Regions from separate parts of the Homo sapiens genome. Here regions 1, 2, 3, 4 and 6 are each linked to region 5. Evidence: fine-mapped expression QTL. A gene starts in region 5. Each other region holds a variant in brackets. All regions are shown on one strand. Distances are from middle to middle.

Evidence for each region. PIP is the estimated chance that this variant, and not a neighbour inherited with it, causes the effect.
Region 1: its variant is fine-mapped to the expression of GTF2F1 in esophagus muscle (GTEx, PIP above 0.99). The same link has a PIP of 0.9 or more in cerebellar hemisphere.
Region 2: its variant is fine-mapped to the expression of GTF2F1 in whole blood (INTERVAL, PIP above 0.99).
Region 3: its variant is fine-mapped to the expression of GTF2F1 in subcutaneous fat (GTEx, PIP above 0.99). The same link has a PIP of 0.9 or more in esophagus mucosa, pancreas, sigmoid colon, tibial nerve, transverse colon and visceral fat.
Region 4: its variant is fine-mapped to the expression of GTF2F1 in breast (GTEx, PIP above 0.99). The same link has a PIP of 0.9 or more in skeletal muscle.
Region 6: its variant is fine-mapped to the expression of GTF2F1 in whole blood (INTERVAL, PIP above 0.99).

The regions. Positions count from the first base shown.
Region 1 is chr19:6,288,290-6,292,372 of GRCh38, reverse strand. No RefSeq gene overlaps it. Among named protein-coding and RNA genes, the nearest start is that of MLLT1, 10 kb to the right of the region's middle. The variant T/C (reference allele first, on the strand shown) is at 2,084.
Region 2 is chr19:6,210,955-6,215,021 of GRCh38, reverse strand. MLLT1 (MLLT1 super elongation complex subunit) reads left to right here. Exons shown (of 12, transcript NM_005934.4): 9 at 984-1,083; 10 at 1,225-1,296; 11 at 1,614-1,685; 12 at 1,852-4,067. The coding sequence ends at 1,980. Among named protein-coding and RNA genes, the nearest start is that of MLLT1, 67 kb to the left of the region's middle. The variant G/A (reference allele first, on the strand shown) is at 2,267.
Region 3 is chr19:6,367,582-6,371,662 of GRCh38, reverse strand. CLPP (caseinolytic mitochondrial matrix peptidase proteolytic subunit) reads right to left here. Exons shown (of 6, transcript NM_006012.4): 6 at 1,421-3,125. The coding sequence ends at 2,953. Among named protein-coding and RNA genes, the nearest start is that of ALKBH7, 3.2 kb to the left of the region's middle. The variant C/A (reference allele first, on the strand shown) is at 1,965.
Region 4 is chr19:6,359,096-6,363,167 of GRCh38, reverse strand. It overlaps CLPP (caseinolytic mitochondrial matrix peptidase proteolytic subunit), which reads right to left and starts at 1,637. Exons shown (of 6, transcript NM_006012.4): 1 at 1,396-1,637; 2 at 1,228-1,299; 3 at 626-722. The coding sequence starts at 1,593. It also overlaps a transcript of ACER1 not described here. RefSeq lists an enhancer at 5-962 and a silencer at 1,161-1,390. The variant A/G (reference allele first, on the strand shown) is at 2,364.
Region 5 is chr19:6,391,092-6,395,174 of GRCh38, reverse strand. It overlaps GTF2F1 (general transcription factor IIF subunit 1), which reads left to right and starts at 2,011. Exons shown (of 13, transcript NM_002096.3): 1 at 2,011-2,191; 2 at 2,272-2,318; 3 at 3,201-3,273. The coding sequence starts at 2,180. MIR6790 (microRNA 6790) reads left to right here and starts at 2,192; the gene lies at 2,192-2,254. It also overlaps the pseudogene LOC390877.
Region 6 is chr19:6,476,446-6,480,528 of GRCh38, reverse strand. It overlaps DENND1C (DENN domain containing 1C), which reads left to right. Exons shown (of 23, transcript NM_024898.4): 2 at 478-542; 3 at 627-670; 4 at 811-860; 5 at 1,473-1,592; 6 at 1,677-1,746; 7 at 3,071-3,151; 8 at 3,246-3,311; 9 at 3,402-3,455; 10 at 3,562-3,672. Among named protein-coding and RNA genes, the nearest start is that of DENND1C, 3.3 kb to the left of the region's middle. RefSeq lists an enhancer at 148-647. The variant T/AAT (reference allele first, on the strand shown) is at 2,120.

The DNA.
Region 1 (4,083 bases), 100 kb after region 5:
TTCCAGTGAATACCTGGGGTACGTGATGGAGATTTTTTTAAAAAGGCATCTCTTTTTCCTCTTCCAACCTTATATCCTTGAGTCCCAGTGACCTTTGCAGGTGCCACTCATAGCTGCGAGTGCAACCTTCACCCATGCAGCGGGAAGGCCTAGTGGGTAGGAATATTCGCACTTACCTACATACCACCCTATCCTTCTGCTGTTGGTAACCTTTGGGTTCCCTAGACCTTATCTATGCTTCCATCCATGAAGCAGGAGGGCTAACTGGCAGGAATTAGTCATGCTCACCTGGGCTGTGCCTCTCAACTCCTGCTGTCATCTGCCTCAGGTCTAATGTCCCATTTCAGGACTTTAAAGTGAAGCTTGGGACAAAAAAGGTGACTCAGATGGGTCTATGGACCCATTAAATTAGTCCCATGTGGCCCTCGCCAAATTGCAGATAGCAACTGGAGGGGGCTGCTCCTCTACTGCCTCTCTATCATAAGCAGGTGAAGCCGTGAGGCCAGGTCCTCCTCAAACAAGGGAGAGAAAGGGAGTCCCAGAAATTGGGGACCTGACCTAATAAGGTGCCTCCCTGATACAGTTTGGCTCTGTGTCTCCACCCAAATCTCATCTTAAATTATACTCTCATAATTCCCACATGTTGTGGGAGAGACTCAGTGGGAGGTCATTGAATCATGGGGATGGTTTCCCCCATACTGTTCTCATGGTAGTGAATAAGTCTCATGAGATCTGATGGTTTCATAAAGGGTTTCTGCTTTCACTTCTTCCTCATTCTCTCTTGCTTCTGCCATGTAAGAAGTGCCTTTCTCCTTCTGCCATGATTGTGAGGTTGCAGTGAGTTGAGATTGTGCCACAGTACTCCAGCCTGGGTGACAGAGCGTGTCTCTGTCTTAAAAAATAAATAAATAAATAAATCACTGGAACGCCTTTGACCCTCAGACTCTGGAGAATCTCCTCATGATGTGGAACTGTGAGTCCGTTAAACCTATTTTCCTTCCCAGGCTTGGGTATGTCTTTATCAGCAACATGAAAACGAACTAATACACTCCCTAACGGAAACAAAAGTAACCCCACAGAGAAAAGCTCCCTGTAGTCACAAGACTATGTTGACTCCTGGCGTGGTGGGGAAGAAGACCTGAGATGCTGCTTACAGTCGTGCTAAGAGAGGAAGGGGGCCTGGGTTGGGGAGGAGAACTGAAAGGCCTGCTCCAGAGTCCAGGAGGTGGCTACCTTCCTCCCTTCAACCCAGGGCTCCTGGATGGTAATAGTGGTCTGAACCATCAGAGCTTGGGAAAGGAGCCCTAGAATCCATCTGTCCTTCTGGACCATCTGGAAGTCTGGTCCTGGACCCGGCAACCTGTGTCTCCAGGGACAGGCTGCCCCTACAATGGTTCCCACTGCAAACCAGACAGGGTTGAGGTGGCCTCCCCGCACTGCCCAGACAGTCTCTCCTGAAGTGGCCTGGCCTGCCACATTTGCAGCAGACAACGGGTGCATCTCAGGGACTATGGAGTCCGTGAAGCTTCAGGGCAGGTATTAGAGCTTTTGCCTTTTTTTCCGTATCTCCTCTCTCTTTTCTGGACTTCCTCCAAGTTCCCACAGCAAAGTCTAAGGTGACCACTCCCAGGAGGCCCTCCAAAGTACCATCTGGCCCTGCAGCCTGTTTCTGAAGCTCCCTCCTGACATCAGGGCCTGACTGTGTCATAAACTCATCCTCTAGGATCAGATGTCCCTCTCCTCAATCAGGACTTAGGTGTGTTTTACCAAGGCCTCTCTTAGCCTTTCCAGGAAGGCAGTGGGACTCACGCTTAATCCCTGTCTACCATGGATAGCTTAGTGTAATTGAGAGGCTTTGTCCTAGTCCTTCGTATGCCCTCTGGTATGCACACCTGAAAGTGTTTCCTCTTCCATTCTTTTTTTTTTTTTTGAGATGGTGTCTTGCTCTGTCGCCGAGGCTGGAGTGCAGTGGCATGATCTCGGCTCACTGCAACCTCCACCTCCCAAGTTCAAGTTATTCTCCTGCCTCAGCCTCCTGAGTAGCTGGGATTACAGGCATGTGCCACCACATCTGGCTAATTCA[T/C]TTTTGTATTTTTAGTAGAGATGGGGTTTCACCATGTTGGTCAGGCTGGTCTAGAACTCCCGACCTCGTGATCTGCCCACCTCGGCCTTCCAAAGTGCTGGGATTACAGGTGTGAGCCACCGTGCCTGGCCTCCTTTTCCATTTTCTTTTTTTTTTTTTTTTTTGAGACAGAGTCTTGCTCTGTCATCAGGCTGGAGTGCAGTGGCATGATCTCAGCTCACTGCAATCTCTGCCTCCCAGGCTCAAGTGATTCCCTGCCTCAGCCTCCCAAGTAGCTGGGACTACAGGTGTGCACCACCATGCCTGGCTATTTTTTTTGTATTTTAGTAGAGATGGGGTTTCACCATGTTGGGCAAGATGGTCTTGATCTCCTGACTTCATGATCCGCCCATCTCAGCCTCCCAAAGTTCTGGGATTACAGGTGTGAGCCACCACGCCTGGCCCCATTCTTTTGTCTCATCATTGAGGTCCCATTTAGGGTTCTTCAGTGGTACTGCTATTCTTCCAATCAGATAAGTCTCATCCCCTTCCCTGGCCCTATATAAGATATAAAGCTCATCCCCAAAATTCTGTGCCACTTTCAGGGTGGCCTGCTTTTCAGTGGTGGTCAGGGTTTGATTCAAAAGTAACATGAAGCCGGGTGCAGCTCATGGCTGTAATTCCAGCACTTTGGGATACCAAGGTGGGCAGATCACTTGAGGTCAAGAGTTTGAGACCAGCCTGGCCAATATGGTAAAACCCCATGTCTACTAAAAATATAAAAATTAGCCAGTGTGGTGGTGCATGCCTGTAGTCCCAGCTACTTGGGAGGCTGCGGCAGGAGAATCACTTGAACCTGGGAGGTGGAGGTTGCAGTGAGCCAAGAGAGTGCCACTGCACTCCAGCCTGGATGACAGAGTGAGACCCCATCTCAAACAAAAACAAAAACAAGAGTAACATGACATCTTTCCAGGAGAGCTCAAATACTTGGGTTAAGTTCTGGAAACTCTCTATATACCTGTGAGGGCCATCTGAAAACTTGCCAAGATCTCCCCTTAAATTTGCCTTAAGTTCTATAGAGAAAAGGAAAACTGAACTTCAATGGGACCATATTCACCAGGCATCTGTTTTTGGGCAGTTGAGACTGGGACCTGCCTTAAACAAGGATTACTATGCCGGGGCAAGCTTGAGAGAGAACCTGGATAGGGAGGAGTTGAGGGGATTGATTCCCCTGCTGGAGGTACCTCTGGGGTATGCTTCCCTATTTCTCTGGGATTACCCCTTGCAGCTTCTCCTGAGAAGGCCATTAGGACAGCTGAATCAATCCTACAATGTTGGCAAAGGTCCAGATTACCCTGCAAGGCAAAGAAGGCCTGCATGTATGGGACCTTGGACCATTTATTTGCCCTTGTGTTTACAGAAAAGCTTCCTTCCTGAGGCCATGCTTCTGTTCTGTGCCTCAAGGTGCCTTGCACCAAGATGGCAACCAAGGAAATGACAATAACATTTTTCCCACAAAATTATGTACAGATACCAAGGCACACTTTGCTCATCTGTGCTACTCTTAACCTTCCATTTTATACTTTTGATGACTAAGCCAAATGCTCATTCTATCCAGTAATTTCTCTGTTTTGCAGCAACATTCTTAACATTTAACATTGTAGGCTGGATGCGGTGGCTCATACCTGTAATCCCAGCCCTTTGGGAGGGCGAGGCAGGTGGATGACCTGAGGTCAGGTGTTCAAGACAAGCCTGCCCAACATGGTGAAACCCCATCTCTATTAAAATACAAAAATTAGCCAGGCATGGTGGTGCATGCCTGAAATCCCAACTACTTTGGAGGCAGATGTTGCAGTGAGATAAGATCACACCACTGCACTCCAGCCTGGGCGACAGAGCAAGGCTCTGTCTCAAACACACACACACACACACACACACACACACGCGTGCGCACAGAAATTTAATGTTGTATATAAAGAAGAGATAGGAGCTGGGTGCAGTGGCTCATGCCTGTAATCTCA
Region 2 (4,067 bases), 180 kb after region 5:
GCGTCGCCTGGGCAACGTGAGCCAGACCTGGAGCTGCCAGAGCCGGGAGGCAGCTGCAGAGAGTGGCCCCAGCCTGAGGCCACTGAGGGGCAAGTTTAAGAGATGAACGGAGCCTGCGCCGGGGCAGGAGCAGGCCAGGAACAGGGACAATGGCTGTGCTGCCCACCGGGAAGTCCGGTGTGCTCGAGCCGCTTCTGGCACCTCCTTGTTCACTAGGAGGCCTGGGGTTTGCTGTGTTTTAAACGTGTTGTGAAGTGATGGTTGTCAGGGGCCCCTCTCACTGGATCAAGCCCAAAATATCCCTGGCAGAGCGGGACCCCAGGCACGCAGAGTGAGAGAAAAATGGGCCCAGGCTCTGTGTGTGGTCATAGCAGCCTCCTTTCACAGATGGGGAAACTGAGGCAGAGGTCAAAGACCTGCCCCCCAGGGTAGGGGAGGTTGAGAGCTTGGACCTCTCCCCACCACCAGATACCCCTGTTTAGGACCACACCCTCTAGGGTCAGGGGGGCCGATGTGACTGATGGAGGCCTGCTGTCCAGAGCAAACCAGGGTCAGGCGGCCAGGGGAGCATCGGAGGGACGGGCGGCCATGGAAGCCCTAGGGCAGTGCTGGGAGAAGAGGGCAGGTTTTCAGCAGGCAGCTCCTCCTCCCCTTGTTAAAGCCACAGAACCAAGTCAGAGGACCACAGCCCAGCAAGGCCCATTGGCTGGGGGGCTTTGTGTCCCGGGTATCCCGGAGCACTCTTGGCCTGCTCGGGCGGCCCCCAAAGGGCCTCTGGGTGGCCTGGTTTCCTTGGGGTTCTTTCCTCTTGGTGGCCACACACAGTATTTTTAAGTTGAGGTTCCTGCGCAGAGGTGAATGGAGCTGTTGGGGGTGTGTGGGCTCAGGCACCGACTCCGTGCGGGGCAGAGGCTTGAGCCTGGGGGTGGGGTGGGGGCCGTGGTGGCGGCAGGGGCCTGATGCGCCCCCGTGTGTCGGTTCAGGTTGAGCTTCAGCGACAGCGAGAGTGACAACAGCGCCGACTCCTCCCTGCCCAGCCGTGAGCCCCCACCCCCCCAGAAGCCACCCCCGCCCAACAGCAAGGTGAGCCTGGGGCCTGCAGGCAGGGGGTGCACCAGAGGCCGGGCTTAGCCCTGGGCCGGGCTGTCCTAGGAGGGTTTGTGGGGCCTTCGGGGCTGGGGAGGGTGTGGGCCACAGCTCAGCAGAGACCTGGGTTCCCTGCAGGTGTCAGGCCGGAGGAGCCCCGAGTCCTGCAGCAAGCCTGAGAAGATCCTCAAGAAGGGCACCTACGACAAGGTGGGGGGGCACCTACGACAAGGCGGGGAGGCTACGGAGGGGTGGGTGGTGGGAGTTGCAGCCAGTGGAGGACCCCAGAGCCCCCCAACACCCCACAGTTGGACTCTTCCTGGGCAGGAGCAGGGACAGTCCTTCCTCCCCTCCCGGTGTGGCCTTGGAGCTGAGGGGCTGCCCCTGCAGCCTTGGGCCTTCCTTGGTTTGGATGTGGCTACCTCTGTCCTGTGCTGGGATGGACTGGGTCATGGGTGGGGCTGGGCATGGGAGCAGGAAGGGTCCAGGGCCCCCACACGCTGCTGAGACCTGCCCCCCCTCCCCAGGCCTACACGGATGAGCTGGTGGAGCTACACCGGAGGCTGATGGCGCTGCGGGAGCGCAACGTGCTGCAGCAGGTATCGCCCCCCTGAGGGTCCTGCCCGGCAGAGGTCGGGGTGCCTGTGAGGAGTGTGGGCTGCGGGGGCCCCTGGTGCTGCCCCAGGAGCCCCTACCTCTGTTAGGGAACAGGGCAACCCCACCCTTGGCCCCCTGCCCCTGAAGCCACCTGCCACCACCTTACAGATTGTGAATCTGATCGAGGAGACTGGCCACTTCAATGTCACCAACACCACCTTCGACTTCGACCTCTTCTCCCTGGACGAGACCACCGTGCGCAAACTGCAGAGCTGCCTGGAGGCCGTGGCCACATGACCCTGGGCCGCGTGCCGGGCCCCCACCGCCGGGGTCCTGGGAGGCTGCAGCCAGGCCTCGCCTGCCCTCCTCTCCCGTCTCGCCTGCCCGCAGCACTGCCTTAGCGACAGCCCTGTCCTCGCCCGCACAGCCCGCTGCACTTTCCTCGGCGGCTCCCTGCCCACTCTCCCCGCTCCATCGCCAGGAGCCCTGGGGCCGGGCTGGGCCACACGGGAGCCGCCCCCCGGGCTCTCTGGGCTCCCCTCAGAGAGCGGCTGGTGTTGAAGGCAGCTCTGGGCAGAGACAG[G/A]GCCGGGGGCCCCTCGCCCAGCCTTGGGACCAGCCCCCACTGCTCGGCGGGCTGTGCGGCGTCGCTGCCCCAGCCTTTCTGAGCAGCGGATCGACGGCTGGGGGGCATCTCCAGCCTCCCGAATGGTTCAGAACACACCCTCCGCCCACCCTGGACCTCAGAAGGCCCTGCCTGTGTGTCTGCGTCGTCCTCCGTGTAGACCTAGCGCCGGCTCCTCCCCGGCTCGCGCTGCGCTGGGGTCTGTGCTGTATAGTTCTCTCTATTATATATGTGTGTGCACTGTCTGGTCAAGAGCAGTGTCCATGTGCGTTTCTGTGGCAGCAGTGCACGTGGGGTGGGTGGGGGGTGCGTACGGTGGGGCTTGTAGGTTAAGATGTCTCTGCGGTGGTGTGGGGCTGGAGGCCGAGCCAGGCACGGCAGCTGGCCCTCTCCAGGCGCATGGAGGAATTCTCCCTTTGCCGTTCCAAGGATGCCGCCGCCTCCTACCGGGGCTCCCGGGGGGGTCAGCCAACACTACAAAGGGCAGCGAGTCCTCAGGGCGCCCGGGAGCCACCAGTCTGCTCTCGGGCTCTACTCAGACTAGCGCCAACAGTCTCCGCGGACAGACTCGCATCAGCCGCCCTGGGGCTCGGCCTCCTCCCATAGGCTCCTCTTCCTCTCTTTCATTCAAGTCTTCAAACTTTGAAAAAAATATGAGCTTTTGCCAAATAAGACGGGATAGTTTATGGAGTTTTCTGAGGCGCATTGAACTCTGGTCAGCCCCTCGAGCGTGGGCTCGGCCATCAGCAGGCCCGGTGGGTTGGCCGGGCTGGCCCTCCCAGGCTGCCTTTCTCTCTGGTCGCGGCCTGGCCCGCCCCGGCCTCCACCGCCGCAATTCATGCTGGTGCCGCGCCCGCAGCCCCACTCCTGGTATGCCTGAGATTCTCCAGGGGCCAAGCCGGTCCTCCTTCCCGGCCCACTCTTCCAGGGCCAGGACGCTCCCGCGGAGCCAGCCCATCGTGGCTGGGGGTCCCAGGGGCTGGAGGCCTGCCTGGTTAGCCTCTGTTTCCCAGACATTGACTCGAGGCGCCTCCAGTCCTCTCAACCCCCTGACTTTCAAGTCCTTTCAAGTCCTTGTGCCCTGACCAAGTTATGAGGAAAAGAGGGCTGAGGGCCTGGAGGTGGGCTCGCACCCCCTCGAACCCACCTAGATGTCTCCTCCTCCCCAGCCTATGAGTTCAGACTTGGGGGGCTCCATCTGTCCCTCCCTGAGGTCCCTCATCTTGTCCCTGCTCTGATTCTGTCAGCAGATCCTGAACACTCCTTGGTGGGGACCCATGCCTCCAAGGCTGCCCCCAATGCCAGCTGTCCTGGGGAAACTCCCCAGAACTCTCGGGGAAAGGCCCGAGAACCTTCGGAGGAAGCCTCCGGGACTCCTCGCCACCTGCTCTGTTTCTCTCCCGGCCCCACTGCCTTCAGGTATCAGGAAGAGGGCAGGCCCCTGTGCCCCCTCTCCCCTTCCCAGGGCGGCCAACAATACTCCACCATGGGGCGCTTCCTTTCTTCTCTGGAAACTAAGACATTGGACTGAAGGAACTGGCCTGAGGGGGGCTGACCGGGGGCCCGTGCTGCTGGGAGCTCTACGCACAAGAGGCCGCCGGGGTCACGGACAGGAACCTCAGCCCAGGGTGCTGGCCTTTCTCCTTCGCAGGAGTCCCCCAAAATCCACACAGCGACTCGAGCAGCCTTCCACTCAGCCAGAGGAGGGTCGGGCTCCCCCGCCTGCTCTCGGTGGTGGCGTCTGGCCCTTCCTGCCGTTTCC
Region 3 (4,081 bases), 24 kb after region 5:
GCCCAACCTGGAGCGCAGTGGCACGATCTCAGGCCCTGAAGATTTGCAACCGCTGCCTCTGGGGTTTAAGTGATTCTCATGCCTCAGCCTCCCGAGTAGCTGGGATTACAGGCAACGAACCATCATGCCCAGCTTTTTTGTTTTGTTTGTTTTTGAGACCGAATTTCGCTCTTGTCACTCAGGCTGGAGTGCAATGGTGCGGTCTTGGCTCACTGCAACCTCTGCCTTCCGGGTTCAAGCGATTCTCCTGCCTCAGCCTCCCGAGTAGCTGGGATTACGGGAAGCTGCCACCACGCCCAACTAATTTTTGTTTTTTATTTTTTTGGTTTTTGGGTTTTTTTTTTTTTGACACACAGTCTCGCTCTGTCACCCAGGCTGAAGTGCAGTGGCGGGATCTTGGCTCACTGCAAGCTCTGCCTCCCGGGTTCACACCATTCTCCTGCCTCAGCCTCCCGAGTAGCTGGGACTACAGGCGCCTGCCACCACGCCCGGCTAATTTTTTGTATTTTTAGTAGAGACAGGGTTTCACCACATTGGCCAGGCTGATCTCAAACTCCTGATCTCAGGTGACCCGTCTGCCTCGGCCTCCCAAAGTGCTGGGATTATAGGCCTGAGCCACCATGCCCGGCCTTTATTTTATTATTTTCTCCCTCTATTGCCCAGGCTGGAGTGCAAGGGCACGATCATAGCTCACTGCAGCCTGGAACTCTTGGGCTCAGGTGATCCTCTCCCCTCAGCCTCTCAAAGCTCTGGGTACTTTTGTATGTATTTTAAATGTGCATAATGCAAACTGCAACACTGTAACTGCTGAGCGTAGCGCCCCCCCGACCCCGGCCCGAATGCTTGCATTTTGAAAAATATTGACCCCATTTCTCCCTCCAGCTACATCTGCCCCCCCACCCTCTGCTCCCCTTGATAGTGTAATTCCTCGAAAGACTTGTCTATGTCTGATATGTTTCCTCCTATCCTTTCTGGATCCACTCCAGCCTGGCTTTTGGCTCCCACAGCACCAGAAAAGGCCTGATTTAAGGCCACCAGTGACATCCACAATGCCGAATCCAATAGCCAGGTCTCAGTCTGACTGTTAATGAGCCTACATGCTGATGCCGCCTACATTTTGTTTTTTTTGAGACAGAGTCTCGCTTTGTCGCCCAGGCTGGAGTGCAGTGGCGCGATCTCCGCTCACTGCAAGCTCCGCTCACTGCAAGCTCCGCTTCCCAGGTTCACGCCATTCTGCCGCCTCAGCCTCCCGAGTAGCTGGGACTACAGGCGCCTGCCACCACGCCCAGCTAATTTTTTGTATTTTTAGTAGACACGGGGTTTCACTGTTAGCCAGGATGGTCTTGATCTCCTGACCTCGTGATCCGCCCGCCTCGGTCTCCCAGAGTGCTGGGATTACAGGCGTGAGCCACCGCGCCCGGCCGATGACACCTACGTTTTTATTTCAACCTCTTGACCCTGATGTCGAGGGACATATCAAAACATCAGGTATAATATATCCAAAATCAACTCCTGATCCCTCCCCAAGCCTGTTCCTTTGCCTACACTTCCCATCTCAGGCGACAGGTCTCCATCTTCCTGCTTTGGGCCATCAGCTCGGAGTTTCTGGAAACTGCTCTCTGTCACATCCCACCTAGCTAGAATCTGACTTTTTCTCATCACTCGGCCAGGGCTGCCATCAGCTTTCGTCTAGATTACTCCAACTATCCTAACTGCTCTCCAGTTTCTGCTCATGGTGCACTCCTCAGGAGTCATAGTCATCCTTATTTTCCTTCCTCTTCTCAAAACCCTCCATGGTTCACATCCCTCCTTTTAGATGTCAGGCCTTTTATGATCTATTCTCAATCACCTCCACTTTTTTTTTTTTGGAGACAGAATCTCGCTTTGTTGCCCAGGCTGGAGTGCAGTGGCGTGATCTTGGCTCACTGCAACCTCTGCCTCCCGGGTTCAAGTGCACCATCACG[C/A]CTGGCTAATTTTCACCTCTACTTTTTGATCTCCTCTCTTCCACCTTCCCTCAGCCACGGGCCTCCTCATAGGTCCTCACATGCCAGGTACAGTCCTGTCACAGGGCCTTTGCACTGGCTGTGCCCTCTGCCTGGACACAGGCTCCACCCCTCACCTCCTTTGAGGCTTTGCTCAACCACCACCTTCTCAGTGAGGGCTTCCCTGATTACCCCATAAAAAACTGTAACACGCTTACCCTCACACTTGCATGCCACCTTTCCTGTTTTTGTTTTTTTTTTTTTTTGAGACAGAGCCTTGCTCTGTTGCCCAGGCTAAAGGGCAGTGGCGTGATCCTGCTCACTGCAACCTCCACCTCCTAAGTTCAAGCAATTCTTCTGCCTCAGCCTCCGGAGTAGCTGGGATTACAGGTGCACCACGCTCGGCTAATTTTTGTATTTTTAGTAGAAATGGGGTTTCACCATGTTAGCCAGGATGTTCTCGATCTCCTGACCTCATGATCCGCCTGCCTCGGGCTCCCAAAGTGCTGGGATTACAGGCGTGAGCCAGCGCGCCTGGCCTGTTTTGTTTTTTTTAGTAACTGTCTACTGCCACAAGAATGGAGCTCTTTTGAGGAGGGTTTCTTGTGTCTTCTTCACAAAAGAACACTGCCTGGAATATAGGATATGATCAGGAGAATCTGTTGAAGGAAGACATGGCTTGCCTCTTGGGGTCAGGACAAAAGCAGAAGGGGCCTGTGAAACACAGATGTGTACACGCTGTCATGGTGCAGAAGGGAGGGTGTCCCAGACGCAGAGCAAAGACCACAAAGATTTAATTTAAAATCACAGTGTCTCAGCTGGAATGCCCCGTCCATAGCGGGCACCCCTGCAAATTAAAAGTTCCTCAAGAGGCCCCTCCAAGCCCAGCAACAAGGGGTGAGCAGGGCCCAGCTGGGGGTCTGGCAGGCCTCTGGCCCCTCCACATGATTCTGGAGAGGAGGCCCAGCTCTCAGGTGCTAGCTGGGACAGGTTCTGCTGCCGGCGCTGCTTCTACAGGCTCCTTCTGCACCAGCGTGGGCTCATCCTCACCGTCCTGGGGAGGGTGGACCAGAACCTTGTCTAAGATGCCAAACTCCTGGGCCTCCATGGGGCTCATGTAGCGGTCCCTCTCCATGGCGGACTCTGGTGGGGAAGCAGGAGGTGAGACACATTAGGGTAAGAGCAGAGACCCAGGGCCAGGTCTGGGTCCTGTTTTGGCCTGAATGTTTGTGCCCACCACCCCAAGTTCATATGTTGAAGCCCCATCCCCTAGTGGGATGGGATTTGGAGATGGGGTCCTTGGGAAGTCATTAGGAGAGATGGGGTCAGGGGCCCCTTGATGGGATTAGTGGCCTTATAAGAGGAGACACCAGTGCACTTGCTCTCTCTCCACCATGTGAAGACACAGCGAGAAGGCGGCCGTCTGCAAGCCAGGAAGAGAGCACTCACCAAGAACCGAATCAGCTGGCACCCTGACCTTGGACTTCCCAGCCCCCAGAACTGTGAGACATAAATCTCTGTTGAGGTCTGTGGTGTTTTGTTAAGCAGCTCAAGCTGACTGAGACATGTCCTCATTCTGCAGTGCCTCAGTTTCCCCTAGGTATCAGTAAAATACCAATTTCAATTTTGTTTTTTAAAAAATTGTTATTGGGCCAGGCACGGTGGCTCACACTTGTAATCCCAGCACTTTGGGAGGCAGAGGTGGGTGGACCACTTGAGGCCAGGAGTTTGGCCTCATGTTTCACCATTGGCCTTCAAAGTTTCACCATGGCCAACATGGTGAAACCCTGTCTCTACTAAAAATACAAAAATGAGCCAGGTGTGGTGGCACACGCCTGTAATCCCAGCTACTAGGGAGGCTGAGGTATGAGAATCACTTAAATCTGGGAGGTGGAGACTGCACCACTGCACTCCAGCCTGGGCAACAAAGCAAGACTCCATCTCAAAAAAAAAAAAAAATTGTTATTGATGTATAATATACACCCAGGAAAGGGCATGATTCGTAAATGTCTGGTGGGATGGATTTTCAGACTGAACATACCCTACAGGACCAGCACCCAGACCAAGAGATGGAATAATGCCAGCACCCCTGAAACCCC
Region 4 (4,072 bases), 32 kb after region 5:
GGTGACAGAACGAGACTCCATCTCAATAAAAAAAAAAAAAAATGCCTCCATCATAAGTGCTCAATCAAAATTGACTACTTTTTTTGGGGAGGGGGAAAAAATCTACCAATTATGATTATTTTTGAGATGGGCTCACTACAGCCTCGACCTCCTGGGCTCAAGTGATCCTTCTCCCTCAGCCTTCCGAGTTGCTGGGACTACAGGCACACGCCACATTGCCCGGCTAATCTTTGTACTTTTTTTGTAGAGATGGGGTCTCACTACGTTACCCAGGCTGGTCTTGAACTCCTGAGCTCGAGCAATCCGCCCGCCTCAGCCTCCCAAAGTGTTGGGATTACCGGTGTGAGCCACTGTGCCCGGCCTAAAATCTACCAATTTTTAAATGTCAGCCGGGTCAGGTTGGCAGAACAGTATGTGCAGGATCAAAGAGGCCACATCCTGACTTGTGAACCGAGGCTCAAAAGCCAGCAACAGGCACCTTTTGGTGGTTTAAAGCCACTTCTGGAACTCTGACGCTCTGCACCCTTTCCCAGAGAGAGAACATCCCTGACCCGGGATTCTGGTCCCCTGAGTCACCCGTGTGCCCTGACGAGTGCCCCTGGCACCCAGGAAAGACCCTGCTCACCAGGGCTGTTGATGTACATGTGGATGGGCTTCTTGTTGCTCTCGGATTGCAGGAAGAGGAGCTGTGCGATAACAAGGCTGGCAACGCTGTCATCGATCTGCAGGTGGAGAGGGCAGGGGTGTCCCCAGATTCGGGGTGGGGAGAGAGTTTTAAGGGAGGCTGGGGATGGGTCAGGGAACCAGGAAGGGGGACCAGAGCCCAAAGTAAAAGGGATGGGGAAGAATTTAGGCCCCAGAAGGGGATGGGGAGAGAGTAGTGGAGAGGACCCAGGGGGTTTGGAGCACAGGAAGGGGGGAGTCAGGGGGCTAGGGACACAGGAAAGGAAGGGGTGAGAATGGCTGGGGAGAGTCTTGAGCGTAGGAATGAGGGGAGCGGTGCCAGGTGTCAGGAAGGAAGTCGGAGATTAAGAGCCGAGGAGCAGAGAAGGGGTGAGGAGCGGGTTGGGGGACCGGGAGCCAGGAGGGGAGTCAGAAGGGGAGGGAAGGGGGTTAGAAGGGGAGCGGAGCCTGAGGGAAAGTCTGGGGCCAGGGAAGGAGGGGCGCAGGGAGTGTCGGCAGGCGCTTGGGAGAGTCCTGGGGAGGGTCCCGGCGCGGGGCGCTCACCGGGCCCATGACGCACACGATGCGCTCCCGCAGCAGCCGCGAGTAGATGTCATAGGCGCGCTCGCCGCGACCCTGGGGGTAGAAAGATGGAGGTGAGGGGCCGGGGCAGCCAGCCGATCCCCACCCAGCCCGGAGCCCCCGAACCGTGTCCCCGCCCGGCCGCCGTACCGTCTGCTCCACCACGATGGGAATGAGCGGGAGAGCCCGGGTCGCCGTCGCGTGCAGGCACCGCTGCAGGGCCAGGCCGTTCTGGAGTGTCCGCTGCGGCGGCCGCTGCGCTGGAAAGTGAGCGGCGAGGCGAGGCCCCAGCGCGGGGTACCTGCATGACGCCACCCGGGCCCCCCCTACCAATATTCCGGGCCACATCCCTCCGCACGCCCCGGTCGGCTTCCGTCCGATGGCGGAACTACAGCTTCCGGCGTGCTTTGCGCCTGGGAGCTCGCTCGCTAGGCCGCTCACTTCCAGGAGTCTGGGCGGGCGCCATTAAGGGTGAGGCGGGGATAGGGACGGAGCCTGAAAGGGAGGAGCCAATGAAGTAAATTGAGTGGGCAGGGCTGGAGAAGTTTTAGAGTCTCCAGTTCGAGTCCCCTTACCGACCAATTCGTCTTCTTTTTTTTTTTTTTTTGAGACGGAGTCTTGCTCTGTCACCCAGGCTGGAGTGCGGTGGCACGATGTTGGGTCACTGCAACCTCTGCCTTCTGGGTTCAAGCCATTCTCCTGGCTCAGCTGCCCCAGTAGCTGGGATTACAGATGCACACCACTGCACCCGGTTAATTTTGTTATTTTTAGTAGAGATGGGTTTCACCTTGGCCAGGCTGGTCTTGAACTCCTGACCTCGTGATCTTCCCACCTCGGCCTCCCAAAGTACTGGGATTACAGGCGTGAGCCACCGCGCCCGGCCTCGTCTTCGTTTTCTACTGTTTCTGCTTTATTTATTTTTATTTTTTTGAGACAGAATCTCACTCTGTGGCCCAGGCTGGAGTGCAGTGGCGCCATCCTAGCTCAATGTGGCCTCAAATTTCTGGGCCCAAGCAACCCTCCCTCCCACCTTGCTCTCCAGAGTAGCTGGGACTACAGTTGTGTGCTACCACATCTGGCAAATATATATATATATGTATTAGAGATGGGGTCTTACT[A/G]TGTCGCCCAGGCTGGTCTCAAACTCCTGGCCTCAAGTGATCCTCCCACCTTTGCCTCCCAAAGTGCTGGGACTACAGGCATGAGCCACCACACCCCACTTATTCCTTATTTTAAAAATAGCTGCAGGGCCGGGCACAGTGGCTCACGCCTGTAATCTTAGCACTTTGGGAGGCTGAGGTGGGCGGATCACGAGGTCAGGAGATCGAAACCATCCTGGCTAACACGGTGAAACCGCGTCTCTACTAAAAATACAAAAAATTAGCCGGGCGAGGTGACGGGCACCTGTAGTCCCAGCTACTCAGGAGACTGAGGCAGGAAAATGGTGTGAACCTGGGAGGTGGAGCTTGCAGTGAGCTGAGATGGCGCCTCTGCACTCCAGCCTGGGCGACAGAGCCAGACACCGTCTCAAAAAAAAAAAAAAAAGCTGCAGTGTTCCCACAGCTCATCTTGGAAGAGGGGTCCCAGAGAGGACTTAGCCTGGGTCTTGGCCTTGAAGAGCTTCCAGCCTGGTGTGGCCGACTTCTACTGAGACCTCCTCATTCATTTTTTGGCCACCTGTGGAGTAGATTGTGGGAGCCCAGAGAAGGGTGTTGTGGATTCTTCCTGGAGATCAGACCGGAAAGCATTCCTAGGAGAAGCAGGTATTGGAATTGGGCTTTGCAGGATAAGTAGGAGTTTGTTAGCTGGGGAAAGGCATTTCCAGCAGAGGAAAAAGAATGGGCAAAATGGTGGAAGTAGGAAGATTGCTGGTAATGTTGGGACTTCTCTTTTTTGCCACACCTTCTCAAGCCAGATTCTTTTTCATCATTCAGTTCAATGTCACTATCTAAGAGGTGCCCACTGCTTCATCCCCAAAGTCTAGAATAGTGCCTGACACACAGTAGGTGCTCATTAAATACACATTGAACCAAGAGATGAAGAGGTGATAAAGGAGGTAGGTAGAGGGCTTTGGAGGCATCTGCAGAGTGGGGATAATGATAACCTACCTCCTAGGTTTGTGCAGAAAGTCCTCAGAAAGGGTCCAAAAATGTGTAAAAAGTGCTCAGTTTGAATGATTTATTGCTGTGTTAGATCAGGGACCATGGAAGTCTGAGAAGTCTTCAGGTCCTCCCACATGGGAGTCTACTTGAAGTGTTTTTTTCTTTTTTTTCCCGGGGCAGTCCTTCGAATCACAGCAGATTCAGGCGAGGTGTTGTGGTGGCTCATGCCTGCAATCCCAGCACTTTGGGAGCCCAAGACATGTGGATCACCTAAGGACAGGGGTTTGAGACCAGCCTGACCAACACAGTGAAACTCCGTCTCTATTAAAAATACAAAATTATCTCGGCATGGTGGTGAATGCCTGTAATCCCAGCTACTTGGGAGGCTGAGTCAGGAGAATCACTTGAACCCAGGAGGCAGAGGTTGCAGAGAGCCGAGATCACACCACTGTACTCCAGCCTGGGCAACAAGAGCAAAACTCTATCTCAAAAAAAAAAAAAAAATCACAGCAGATTCAGAGAGACTCCTGAAGTGGATTTTGATGTATAAGAAGTTTACCAAGCAGTAAGCGGTAGACTCTTTTTTTGTTTTGAGTCAGTGTCTCGCTCTGTCACCCAGGCTGGAGCACAGTGGTGTGATCAGAGCTCACTGCAGCCTTGAACCTCTGGGCTCAAGCTATCCTCTCACCTCAGCCTCCCAAGTAGCTAGGACTAGAGGTGCATGTCAC
Region 5 (4,083 bases):
CTATCATCCCATTTTACAGTGGAGGGAACCGAGGTTCAGTGAGAGGCAGGGACTTGCCCACGCTCCCAGTCTCATCCCATACTCCCCTTCTCTCTGTTCCAGCCCCATATCCTACTCCCCTTCCCTCTGTCCCAGCCCCAACCCATACTCCCCTTCTCTTTGTCCCAGCCCCAGGGGGCTTCAGTTCTTTGAATTTGAAACTCACTTCTCCCTTGCTGTTTCCTCTGCTTGGAAAATCCCTGCCTGCCCCAGTTCCTTCTGGCCACAACTTCCATCTGGCCTTCTCTAGCCTCCATCTAGAGCTTCCCCCCATCACTCCTTGTCTGAGACACCTATTTCCTCCACAGCAATGGCCACAGTCTGTCATGATCTTCTCTGTTTACTCGTTCTTTTTTTTTCCTTCTTTTCCTTCTTTTTTTTTTTTTTTTTTTTTTGAGACGGAGTTTCGCTCTTGTTGCCCAGACTGGAGGGCAATGGCGCGATCTCGGCTCACCACAACCTCTGCCTCCCAGGTTCAAGCGATTCTCCTGTCTCAGCCTCCCGAGTAGCTGGGATTACAGGCATGTGCTACCACGCCCGGCTAATCTTGTATTTTTAGTAGAGACGGGGTTTCTCCACGTTGGTCAGGCTGGTCTCGAACTCTCAACCTCAGGTGATCCGCCCGCCTCGGCCTCCCAAAGTGCTGGGATTACAGGCATGAGCCACCGTGCCCAGCCGTTTACTCGTTCTTGTCTCCCCCAAGCCAGACACTCCATGAGGGCAAGGACTATTTCTGCCTCCCTCATTCCTATATTCCTAGGGGTTGGCGGTTCCTGACATTTAGTGGTGGATGAGAAATAAATGAAAACAGACACATCGACGGTGTCTGTAGTTCATGGCCCAACTTTTGTGTCTTGCCCGCCTTCCCTTTGCTTAGCCAACTCCTATGCATCCCTCAGTGCCCAACTGAAACCTCCCCTCTTCTCTGAGCCCTCAGAGCCCCGCTGTGCTTCTCCTGCTCCTTCCTGGGTTGTAGATTCCCATGCTGTGACTCTGTCTCTTCCACGACACTGTAACCCTCGAGAGGACACTGTAATCCTCCGTGGGGAGCTGGTTTGACAGATTCACCTTGCGGGGCCCCGAACCCAGGAGGTGCTGGAGTATTTGCGAAGTGGAGCAATGAATGGTTGCGCCGTGAGCATGCGCAGTTGTGTTACTGCCATGATTCGGGGGATGTGTGCATGCCTGGAACGGGGTAGGGGATCCTGCATCTCCCTCCTGTTCTCGGCAGCTTCCTTCCCTTCCCCCCAGGAAGCCAGCCAGCCGCCCCCGCGACGTTACCCTTCTCCTGGGGCCTCAGAGCCCTGCCCATCTCGGGCAGCTTGGACTTGCAAAGACCCATCCGGCCAGCAGCTCTTGGGGTGGTCGCGCCCCGACCCCGCCCAGGCTCTGACCCCTCCTGGCTCGGCTCAACGTCACAAGGGTCCCCGCCCCGGTCATTTTGCGGGAATGACGGGGTCCACCCCTTCGGGGTAGGGGGAGGAAATGAACCCCAAACAGACCCATGGGGAGCCAAGCGGCGGTTCGACCCGACCCGAGTAGGCCTCGGTTGCTATGGTGACGCGGCCTTCTGGGCCCCCCAGGTCCAGAGCGGCAAGGCGCATGCGCAAAGTGCCTGGGAGCCCGCAAGGGGGATTCGTCTCCCTCTTCCCACCCAGGATGCCCCACGGTCCTTGGGTGCTGACGTCACGAGAGAGGGCGGTCCCCCATTTGATGAAGTTAACCGCGTTATATACAAGAGCGCCAGCGACAGAGGCCCGTTAGTTTATCTCAGACTCGGCCTAGGTTTGCTGAGTCTAAAAAGGGACCGCGGTGGACCTTTTGAGGTGACCATAGCCGCCGAGGAGCATAAGTGACTGCGCACTGAGGTGGCCACAGTCGCTAAGAAGGTTGCCATCGCGACGCGGCTGCTCGAGGGTTTCGCTTCCGGGTTAGGCGGCCGCAGAAGCGTAGACCGAGTAGCTTGAGCGCCTCTTCCGGTTACCTTTTCCCAGCGCCAGAGGCGCCTAGGGTTGGGGTCCTCGCTCAGGCACAGAGACCCGACACCGAGCGGCGGCTTCCCCGGGATCGAGGGACGCGCACGCCAGAGGAGACGAAAGGAACCCGGGTCGGACCAGATCGGAACCACTGACCATTGCCCATGGCGGCCCTAGTGAGTGTGGATTTGGCGGGGTTCGGGGGTTCCGACGGCGACCTCGGCGACCCCTCACTCACCGCTTCCTCTTTCCGCAGGGCCCTAGCAGCCAGAATGTCACTGAATACGTCGTTCGAGTTCCTAAGTAAGTCCCCAGCCCCATCTCCCACTCCTCTCCACCCCCCAAAAATGAAAACCTTCACGATCTTCTTAGCCAGCCATTTCTGGCCCTGTCTGTGGTTCTCCCTCCAGACCGGGAGAGACTTGGAGGGCAGGGCTGGGATTAAGCTGAGGCTTCTCTGGGGACAACACTGCTTTTTTGAACGAATGAATGAATGAGTGCATTAATACACGGTGATCCAGCCCCCTGGCCTAACCTTCGAGGAGTATATGGTCCCATGATGCCCAGGCCAGCTGTAAGGACATATTCCTCGTCCTGTTTCAAAGTGGTCAGGCTGTCTTTCCTTTCCAGGCCTTTGTACATCCTGTTCCTCTGCCATGAGTGCCTCCCCTCAACCCCTAAACTGTGACTCTGCTGGGTGAATTCTTGATGATTCTGCAAAACTCAACTCCAGTATCTTCCTCCTCCAGGAAATACTCCCTGCCTGTCCTCCCTCCTCCCCAAGGCTGAGTTCACAATAATCTCCACATCTTGGGTTCCCCCAAATCTTCGTCCCTCCATCTGCTCTTCTTCTGCCTGGGGTCAGGAGAGGATGGGTCTAGCTTCTCTGGCAGACTGGGAATCCTTGGAGTCTTCCGTATCCAGTGTTGCCAGGCAAAACAGGCTGAATGAAGCTGGGTGGGTTTGTTGAGTGAATTGAATTGAATTAATGATTCAATTGAATGGAATGATTGAATTGAATTAATGGTTCAATTGAATTGAGTGATTGAATTAAAGTAATGATTTGATTGAATTAACGATCCAGTTGGGTGGTTGATTGAATTAATGGTTCAATAGCATTGACTGATTAAATTAATGATTGAATTGCTGTATTGGATTGACACTACCTCTTCTCATCCACTCCAGGAATACAACCAAAAAATATAACATCATGGCTTTTAATGCAGCCGACAAAGTCAACTTTGCTACGTGGAATCAGGTAAGTCTCTGAGTCCTGGGGGTCAGGGGCTGGGGTGGTGAGAGAACTTGACCCTGACCTTGGTGGTTGTGATAGTTGCTTAACTGTCATAGTCACTAAGTCTTAATTTTCTCACTTTTCTCCAAGTGAAGAAAAGATAGATGACAAAGGGTTGGGTGCAGTAGTTCACACCTGTAATCCCAGCACTTTGGGAGGCTGAGGCAGGAAGCTTGCTTAAGGCCAGGAGTTTGAGACCAGCCTGGGCAATACAATAGCAAGACCCCAACTCTACAAAAAAATTAAAAAGTTAGTTGGGGCTGATAGCGTGGGTCTGTAGTCCTACATAGGAGGCTGAGGTAGGAGGATCGCTTGAGCCCAGGGGTTCAAGGCTGCAGTGAGCTATGATTGTACGACTGCACTCCAGCCTGGATAACAGAGCAAGACCCTGCCTCAAAAAAAAAAAAAAAAAAAAAAAAAAAAAAACGGAAATGGCAAAGGCCCAGGCCTAGCTCCTGGGTGTCCCTGTAAGTTAGGTTTGGTAGGCCCACCAGAGGCCTCTCCTTAAAGGAGAACATTTAGAAGCTGTGCCCACTGTTGGACATTTTTGGCCATGGTTTATCTGGGCAAGGGAGGGGACTGGGCTGGGGGCTTTCCCAGAGCCCCTGCCATCAGAGGCTCTAGAAAGGACTTTGGGAGCCATTAAAGCATCTTCAATTGGGAAGTTGTAGTGTGTGTGATCTGGCTGCTATGGGGAGACAAACTGTGGGTTTGAGGGCAAATAAACGGAGACCAAGGTAGAAGCAACTGGACTGGTCTAGGTGAGTCCTGGCA
Region 6 (4,083 bases), 85 kb before region 5:
TGGATGGATGGATGGATGGATAGACAGAGACAGACAGACAGACAGATAGATGGATATATATATAGAGAGAGAGAGATGTAATTCACTTAGCTTGGGACTGCACGGGCTGTCCTTCATATCTGTGCAGTCTCATGCCACAGATATAGGAGACAGTCTCATCTTTTCAGGCAGACAGCAGACAGGATCACACACACACTGCCTGCTCACAAAAGCCATGCACTCAGCCACACACAATCATACACAGCCACACACACACAGTCACACTTTCTCACTCCATCCTGTACTTGTGTGTTCAATTAACACTGCTGCACACACAGCCTCACACAACCACACACTCACAGCCACAAACCCCCAGAGTCATGCACATGCCGACGCACCTTGTGGCACATGCACACACAACCACACTTGTGTGCAAAGTGGCAGACACAACCACACATGCATAGAAGCAAGTCTCTGGACCCCTTCTGCATCCCACAGAGGGGGCTCCCCTGCTGTGTTTGATTGGTTCTTCGAAGCGGCCTGCCCTGCCTCCCTGCAGGAGGGTGAGTTGGGAGCCTGGGAGTGAGGGAGTGGGAGGGGAGGGTGGGCCTGGGTCGCTGAACTTAGAGGCGTGCTCTCTTCTACAGATCCCCCCATCCTGCGGCAGTTCCCTCCAGACTTCAGGGACCAGGTATTCAGGCTGGCTCCTTGCTCCCCCAGGGCGAGGGCCAGTCTCCCAGGGGGAGGGGACTTGGTTTCTTGGACCTGGAGCCCAGGGAGGTGGTGCCCGACCTCAGTGGCCAAGCAGTCTGCGCTTTTCTTCACCTCCAGGAAGCTATGCAGATGGTGCCTAAATTCTGCTTCCCTTTTGATGTGGAAAGGTACGGAAGGGCGGGGAGATCCAAGGACTCAGGGACTCAGATCTCTCAGGGGCCCCAAGGACTCAACACCTAGAGACTCAGACATCTGGAAACCCATACACTCGAGGACCCTGAGACTCAGAGACTCAGACACTCAGGGGCCCTGAGAACTAGGGACCTATATACATTAGCATCCAGGGACTCAGACACTCAGGGACCCAGAGATCTAGGGACTCAGGAACCCAGGGACCCAGGGACCCAGGGACTCAGAGACTCAAGGACTCAGGGACACAAGGATTCAGGGACTTCGGAACCCAGAGACTCAGAAACTCAGGGACCAGGGACTCAGGGACTCAGGGACTCAGGGACTGAGGAACCCAGGGACTTAGGGATTCAAGGACCCAGAGATCCAGAAACCCAGAGATCCAGGGACCCAGGGACTCAGGGACCCAGAGATCCAGGGACCCAGAGATTCAGGGACCCAGGGATTCTGAGACCCAGGGATCCAGACATTCAGGGATCCTGACAACTAGAGACCCATACACTCAGGGTCCTAGGAGCTTTGTTGGGGAGCGGGGACATCCTCAGACAGCTGGGATGTCCAGGTCTCTCTAACAGCCCTTCCCACTCCAGGGAGCCCCCCAGCCCCGCCGTGCAGCATTTCACCTTCGCCCTCACAGACCTTGCCGGCAACCGCAGATTTGGTTTCTGCCGCCTGCGGGCGGGTACCCAGAGCTGTCTCTGCATCCTCAGGTGCGGGATATGGGGGTTGGAGGGGGGGATGGGAAAGGCCGAGGCCTAGGGACACTTCGTGGAACCTGTCTCCTCTCTCCACAGCCACCTGCCTTGGTTCGAGGTGTTTTACAAGCTATTGAACACAGTGGGAGACCTCCTAGCCCAGGACCAAGTGAGACCAGCCCCTCTCTCACTCCTGTGGGAGTCCCAGCCCCCACCCCCCTCAACCTCCCAACCCCTCCCTCTCAGATCTCCCAGGCTTGGCAGGGCACACTGTGTCACACCTGTAGTCCCTGCATTTTGGGAGGCCGAGGTGGGAGGATCCCTTGAGCCCTGGAGTTCGAGACCAGCTGGGCAACATAGTGAGACCCCCGTCTCTACAAAATATAAAAAATAATTGGCCAAGTGCTGTGGCTCACGCCTGTAATCCCAGCACTTTGGGAGGACAAGGCGAGCGGATCACCTGAGGTCAGGAGTTCGAGACCGGCCTGACCGACATGGTGAAGCCCCGTCTCTACTAAAAATACAAAAAAAAAAAAAAAAAA[T/AAT]TAGCCGGCCGTCGTGGCACACGCCTGTAATCCCAGCTGCTCAGAGGCTGCGGCAGGAGAATCGCTTGAACCCGGGAGGCGGAAGTGGCAGTGAGCCGAGATCGCGCCATTGCACTCCAGCTTGGGCAACAGGAGCGAAACTCCGTCTCAAAAAATAAAAATAAAAAATTAGCCAGGCGTGGTGGTGCACACCTGTGGTCCCAGCTACTCAGGAGAGCAAGGTGGGAGGATCAACTGAGCCCAGGAGTTCGAAGCTATAGTGAGCTATGATCGCAGCACTGCACTCCAGCCTGGGGGACAGAGCAAGACCCTGTCTCAAGAAAAAAAATTTCTTTTAGATGGAGTCTTCCTCTGTCGCCCAGGCTGGAGTGCGGTGGTGCGATTCCGCCTCACTGCAACCTCCGCATTCCGGGTTCAGGCGATTCTTCCGCCTCAGTCTCCCAAGTAGCTGGGACTATAGGCGCGGCCCACCAGCCCGGCTAATTTTTTTTTTTTTTTTTGTACTTTTAACAGAGACGTGTTTTCACTATGTTGGCCAGGCTGGACACGGACTCCTGGCCTCAGGTGATCCGCATGCCTCAGCCTCCCAAAGGGTTGGGATTACAGGCGCGAGCCACCGCGCCCGGCCTACAAGGAAAAATTTAAATTAAAAAATTTAAAAAGCCGGGCGCGGTGGCTCACGCCTGTAATTGTAGCCCTTTGGGAGGCCGAAGCAGCAGGATCCCTTGAGCCCAGGAGTTCAAGACCAGCCTGGGCAACATAGGGAGACTTTGTCTCTATTATTATTATTATTATTATTATTAATTTCTTTTAAAGAAAGAAAAAAAAAAACTCCCAGGACTGACCTGAGCCCTTGGCTCCTCCCAGACCACTCAACCTTAGTCATAGCCCTCGGAATCCCCAATCCCCACATCTGGCTCAGCCACCCCCGCCCCTCCACGTCCCACCCAGGTCACCGAGGCAGAGGAACTTCTTCAAAATCTGTTTCAGCAGTCCCTGTCTGGGCCCCAGGCCTCAGTGGGGCTTGAGCTGGTGAGTAGCTCCCATTCCCTGGGCGCTGGACCTTAGGTGGATGGGAAGGCTGCGTCCCAGCCATCATGACCACAGAGTCGTGCCTCTTCCCCAGGGCAGCGGAGTGACGGTCTCCAGCGGGCAGGGTATCCCCCCCCCTACCCGGGGGAATAGCAAGCCGGTGAGCGGGGCTCGGGGACCCTGGAAGGTCGGGGGTCCAGGTGAGGCCAGCCTCCTGACTGATTGATCCCCCTGCCAATACCCCCACCAGCTTTCCTGCTTCGTGGCCCCGGACTCCGGCCGCCTGCCATCCATCCCTGAGAACGTGAGTGGGGAGGGGTCTCTGGGGGTGAGAACAGGTCCCGAAACCCGGACCGGGGATGCAAGATCCAGGGGCCCGTCCACGCCCAGAGCGACTCTCTGATCCTCAGAGGAACCTAACGGAGCTGGTGGTGGCCGTGACTGACGAGAACATCGTGGGGCTGTTCGCGGCGCTCCTGGCCGAGAGAAGAGTCCTGCTCACCGCCAGCAAACTCAGCACCGTGAGGCGGGGTCCGCCGGGCCGGGGTGGGAGCAGGGCCTGGCTCCGCCCCGGGGGGCGGGACAAGGGGGCTGATTCCTGGCTCTAACCCTACTGCGCGAGACCCGAGGGCGAAGTCCTGGCCCCGCCCCTTCGAAGGTCTTGGAGAGTTGAACTCTGGCCCCGCCCTCGTGGGAGGGGGCTGCGCTGCAGCTCCTCCTTTTTGGGAGTACTGTGCTCAGGCTCCACCCACTATGGGCCGCAACACGTCTGGCTCCACCCCTCCGGACCCTCAGGGACACTGAGAACTAGGGACTTATACACGTGGGAATCCAGGGACCCAGGGACCCAGGGACTCAGGGACTCAGAGATCTGAGGACCCAGGGACCCGAATACCCAGGGACCTAGGAACACAGGGACTCAGATAACAAGG